2 separate regions of the Homo sapiens genome follow, and region 2 is linked to region 1. The links come from fine-mapping of genetic effects on gene expression. Tissue or cell type: tibial nerve. Region 1 holds a variant in brackets; the other region holds the start of a gene. All regions are shown on one strand. Distances are from middle to middle.

Region 1 (2,901 bases):
TCTACAGGAGACCGGGGGGCCAAGAATCCCCCACCCAGCAGCTGGCCCAGGGCAGTCCGGGATCATCTGTGCAGTTCCAGGTCCCAGGCTTGCAGGCCATGTTCACACAAAGGCAGGTGAGGGTCTCCAGCAGACTGTAGGGCCAGCTGTCTTGAACGACCAAGTTCACCAGTGAGAGCTTCTTCCTACCATCTTTTGTACTAGTAGCAAAGCCCCGGGAGCCTCCTCTGAAGGGAGGATTCTGGTTCTATGCTGGGAGCATCCTCTGGAGCATGGATTCTGGTTCAATGTTGGCCGCTCACTGGGAACAGAGCCCAGGCCAAGCCAAGTTATTGAGTTCAGTTACTCACTCCTTTGGCAGGGGTGGGAACGGGAGCACAGGTCCACTTAGATCTTATTGCCTGACTCAAGTGTTTAAAGTAATCCATGGCCCTCATCTTGGTGCTTGAGGCCCTGCAGGGAGGCTGATGATGAATGAGGCTGTTGGCTAAAGTGAAATGGGGTTAGAGGCAGAGCCCAGTTCCATGCCCTGAGACTCCTGGAGATAAGCAGGGGCCCTCTTTGATCACTGAAGCACCTGCCAGAACAGGAGAGCTGTTGCCCTCTGGGTTAAAATCCCCATGTTGGGCAGCAGCAGAGCCTCACAGTTGGGTCACTCTAACAGGGAGGGACGTGCAGACAGTCCTGAGGAGGGGAGGTGCTCAGGCCTTGTAGGTCTGGCCTTGAGGCCTGTCGGGTGCTGGGTGTGCAGCTGGGAGGCCATGGATAGATCATCTGGATGGCAGGCAGTGATGTCAGGGCCCACCTTCTGCCTCATGGGCAATGGATGCTTGGGGGCCAGGTGGCTTTGGCCAGACGGTGGACACATCATCTCTGTTTCAGGTTCCCCAGAAAAGCAAGGGGGAAACAAGGGCAGCATGTTTGTGCTTTCATACATCTTTTGTTAAGGTGCCCTTTTATCTCAGTAACAACTGTTTTTCCTATTTTCATGTTAAAATATTATTGTTTTATGAACTGAAAATGCAGATAGCTGGTAGGTCACTTTGGTTGAGTCTGATTTAGTTTCTAATGTTATTGCTTAGCAAAATAACAAGCTGAAAACTACAGATAGACCCAGATTTATGGGACTTGAAGTTTCTCCAATATGGGTATCCTCTTAAGAAAAAGACTATCTGTTTAGAGTGAGAAGAGAAATCACAGCTCATACATTTTAAAAGCCAGCAGATGCTACAAACATCACAAATTCTGGGAAAATGCCACATTTCTATGAACCAGCTGCCCGACAGCCATTCTAACGTACTTCCTTAATGCCTGCCCGCTGGGGCCCTCTCCACCGTCAATGACTTCACAGCATCCTTCTCCACAGAGAAAATGGAAAG[A/G]TGAGTTTGCTGTTTTCTTGACACAGTTGATGAAAAGTTTTTGTCTTATTAATTGGTTTTAAGTGTTTCTTTTAGCTTTATAACTGATAATTGGCAATGTCATATACATTTTAATCTTGTTGCCAAGTTTTAGGAGATGTCTGTCAAATTCCTTATATCTGAGCTGTACAATTTAGGATACTTTTATTTTTCTTATGCAGTAATTAATCTTAAGTAGTTAAGACTCAGCTAAACTTTACCTAATTTAACTAAGTTAAATGTTGTTTACGCTGTTGGCACTCAGCCACTTTGTCATTAGTGACCCTGTGGGTATGGGTTTTTCTTTTACTTTATGGTTTTTCACTCTGAAATTAGTGTTTCTGACAGTTGGAATCCCAGATGATCCTGAGTGGCTGACGCGGACGGAGGTGTTGTCTGGAATATGGAGTCATCTTTCTATGGTGTCCCTCAAGACATGCTGGGATTTAGGGATTTCAACAGCATTCTTCTCTCTAGCCTCAAAGCAGTGGAACATTGTAGGCAAACATGTTTGGAGTTTGTGAATAACTCTCAGAGCTGATATATGTCTTCATTTTCACAATGGAACATAAAGTGATGAATCCTAACTAGAGAACAAAGCCAAAAGATAGACACCACTGAAAACGTTTCTCACGAGTCCGTGGTCCTGCAGCAGTGCTGCTGGGAGTCTGGCTTTCAAGACGCTGCTGTAATCACTACAGGGGAAAGCCTGTAATGATTCAATCACACAGAGTAAAAATACACTTTCAGTTGGTGTAACATTGCATTAGTTCTACTTCTACAGAGTCTCCTTAATCACTTGTATTTAAAACAGAAGTTACCAGAGGCCAACGTATGACAGGCCGCAGAAGGCCACTTGCACATCCCAGCTTCGCTTACACAAACAGATGCCCTTCTAGAAGGATCATCTTGCCCTGCAGGGAAGATGATTGTCACATCTCCACAGCACATCACATTTTCCATGTGGAAAACATTCAGGTGTACTTTGATCTAATGAAAATCAGAGTCGACATTCTGCTTCACAGTGGCAGCTGGGAGAGCCATGCTGGAAACCAACTGCTGTTCTCCAAGGAACATGCTCCACTAACCCCTGGGGCCAAGACCAACTGGCATGGAGTGCCTGTGGCTCTGAAAAGGCTTCTCATCTAAAACTTCTGTAAGTGGAATAGGGCCATTGCCCAATGCACAAGGGAAGTCAATATGCTGAGACACCAGGCTGCAGCAGAGAAAGAGGTTTAATTACAGGGCTGCCGAATGAGGAGATGGGAGGAAACATCAAATCCGTCTCCCTGAAGAGTCTGGGGCTAAGGATTTTAAGGGTTTTAGATGGAGCCAAAGTGTGGAGACGGTTGATTGGTTAAGAGTGCAGGGTTATGGGACAGAGGAAAAAAAACTGTATTCTCATGCTGATCCCATTCCTTTGTAGGGGTCTTCAAACTGCTTGGTGTCAACTGGAATTCAGGATCTGAAAAACATTTCATGCATTTCTTAAACAAAAGCCTCA
Region 2 (2,901 bases), 98 kb after region 1:
CTTGTTCCTGGCACCACCTTTAACTCCTGCCCCTGCCCACCAGGACACCTGGGCAAGACGCAGCGCAATGGTGGGTTACCAGGCAGGAGGGAGGGCTCTAGGAAGGTTGGGAGCCATGGAACTCTGGAGCTTAACCTTCTCTGACCACCAGTGTACCAGCCTGCGGGTGGCAGGACTGGGGCCTCTGCCTAGTGTTGAAACGGGGGCGCACAGATGCTTTTCTAAATAACTTTTGACCCCCTTTCTGGTAAATCTTTTTTTCAGAGTTGATTCTCTATGAAATCTACACTGCAAACACCACCTCCTCCGCTCCTAGAACGCAGACTGTCTTACCACCGCCCTAGTTTCCTTCCAATTCCAACTGGGGCGGGCCCGCCATGGGCCAACAACAGGCTGGCTCAGGGCTGAGGGGGTCTCTGGAGTCTGAACTCCGCGCCCGCTTGCTCCTCCAGGGCTTAGCTGGTCAGGACTTGAACATTCGCCGGATCCATAAATTGGGTCATTTTTAACCTCAAAACCGAACCGCAGCCTGGGGAGGCCTTTAGGACCGAGGGGAGCCATCCCTTCCTCTAGTCGGGCAGCAAATTCCTGTCCTCCTAGTCCCCCGCAGCTATCCCCCGCCCCCAGCCTCTGTGGCCCTCACATTGTCAGACACTGGCCGCGGGCCACCATCTGGACGCGATCCCCCGCTAGGGCCTCCCTGGTCTGGGCCAAAGTTGGTGGCCACCTTCGCGCGGGCTGCGCCCTCCTTCTCTTCCCTGCCCTCCTCCCCCGGGGCCCGCGCCCGCTGCCTCCAGCACGCGCGTCGGCAGGCTCGGCAAGCGAAGAGGAGCGGCTCGCCCCAGGGCGCCCCTCGCCCAGCCTGCCGGCCAGGCGAGCGCGACGAGAGTCTCCCCGCACCCCTTCCTCTCCCGGGGGCCGAGAGGGTTGGGCTCCGCCCCGGCGCCGCAGCTCCCGACTCCCCGCCGCTCGGGCTGCCGCCGCTGCCCCGCGCCCGGCGCTCGGGGCAGCCGGGGGCGCAGGCGGAGAGCGCAGGGCGGGGAGAGGCGTGGGGAGCAGAGCGGCGCTGAGGGGAGGGCAGAGGAGGAGAGAGCCTGGCAGCGGAGGAGCAGAGGCGGGCGCCGCACCGCCCCGCACGCTCGCTCGCTCGGGAGAGTCGCGGGCGGCCGCTTGGGCGCACTTGCCGGGTCACCTTGTCCCGGAGGTAAGTCCAGACCTCCCGGCCGCGGGGGCGGGCGGAGGGGCCCGCAGTGGGCGGGGTCGCGGCAGGGGCCGCGAGCTGGCGGCGGGAGCTGGAGGCTGCCCTGCGCTGGCGGGTGTCCTAGTCCTGGCTCCGCCTCGGAGCGCGCAGACCCGGCGGCGGCGTGGCGCCCGCGGTAAGTCCGGGTGGTCGCCGCGACGAGACTTGGGAGACACGGGGTCGCAGGGCGGGAGGGGGAGCTGAGCCGGCAGAGAAAATGCCCAGGAAGGGGTCGATGCTGGCCTGGGCTGCACCTTGGTGCCTTGCCACCCCGGGAGACGCGAAGGGGCTGCTGTGCGAATTCGATGGGAGCTGGTGAGACCGAGAACTGAGAGCGTAGCGGAGCCAGGCTGCCCAGCAGGGCCATGAGGGCGCGCGGCGGGCCAAGGCTCTGCGGGTTCGGGCTGCCCCTCGGAGTGACCCGAAGGAGACCAGCCAGGGCTGGTGAGCCGGGCGGCCACGGAGCTGGGGACCTAGGTCTGTTTGGGAGTAGGAAGGGAAACAGACTAATTCTCCGAGCGGAGCGGCAGGCAAGGTGCAAGCGCGCTTGGGATGGGGAATCCCGACGGGCGACCGTGGCGGAAGCAGAGACTCCTGGAGCCTCTTTCCTCTAGCCAGGACAAGACCTGCCTTCAAAAGCTGTCTGGCCCCTGGCAGCCGCGACAGCCTGCAGCCCTGGGAGCCACAGCCCTGGCGCCGAGATGGGAGCGAGCACATACGCTTTTTTGGTTCCAATTTGAATCTCGCTTTTTCCTAGTCGTGATTTCTGCCTCTTCATGTGCACTCTCTGGGCAGTGAGGAGGAAGGAATGGCTCACTGGATGAGTTGGGCACTTTTCTTAGGGAAGGGGCTTTGTCCCTATGCGCTTTTTGCAAGACCCTACTAGAGTGGCTCTGGCAGCCGAGCTTTGAGGAGGCGGCCAGAGGGGCCGCTTGGCGTTTCTGAAAGACGAGAGGAAGGGGTCTTCTGGTAGTCCTGTTTTCCTTTGGGGGTTTCGTTGCACGCAGAGGCTTGGGCGCTTGGCACCCAGACTTCAGGTGCGCACAGTCCTCCTGCGACGTCAGATGCGCTGGCGCCGCGGCGCTCCTGGCTCGGACCGATGCCTGCGCCTTCCCTGGCCACGTCCTGGTGTTTAGTGCAGCAGACACCGGCCGAAGGCTTGGCTGATTGGGGGTGTCGAGGGGAGGGGGGCTGGGCGTTACACAGTGGCTCCGTTTTCTGGTTGGAATCAGTTGGTGAGGCGTGCGCGCGCGAGTCCGTGTATCTGTCCGTCTCCCTCCTACAGCCCAGCGTGTTTGGTCTGAGTCCAAAGAAGGAGGTGGTGTGTGTGCTGCGTAGACCTGCGCCTGTGGGGTGAGCAGCCTCATAGCCCCCAGAGCCGGCCAACTTCTCCGTGCTAGGCTGCGACCTCAAGGGCTGCCGCGTCGGGGATCGGAAGTGGTCTTCAAAGAGGGGTCTAGGTCGCGAAATCCTGGCAGCAGCCGAAGTGAAAAGGAGCTGCTAGGAGGCGGGCGGGGGGCAGTCTGATGTCCGTTCTGGCGCGGACAGGAAGAAACTGAAGTCGAATTTTTAGTTGAATTGCGTGCTCTGTGTTTGGCGGTGGTGTGGCCCGTTCTTTTGGAGGTCCACACCACAGGTATGAGGCCTGTGGGCCCTGAGGA

What was found. PIP is the estimated chance that this variant, and not a neighbour inherited with it, causes the effect.
Region 2: it holds the start of SYNDIG1, and the variant in region 1 is fine-mapped to the expression of SYNDIG1 in tibial nerve (GTEx, PIP 0.97).

What each region holds. Positions count from the first base shown.
Region 1 is chr20:24,370,795-24,373,695 of GRCh38, forward strand. No RefSeq gene overlaps it. Among named protein-coding and RNA genes, the nearest start is that of SYNDIG1, 97 kb to the right of the region's middle. The variant A/G (reference allele first, on the strand shown) is at 1,380.
Region 2 is chr20:24,468,550-24,471,450 of GRCh38, forward strand. It overlaps SYNDIG1 (synapse differentiation inducing 1), which reads left to right and starts at 1,080. Exons shown (of 4, transcript NM_024893.3): 1 at 1,080-1,204.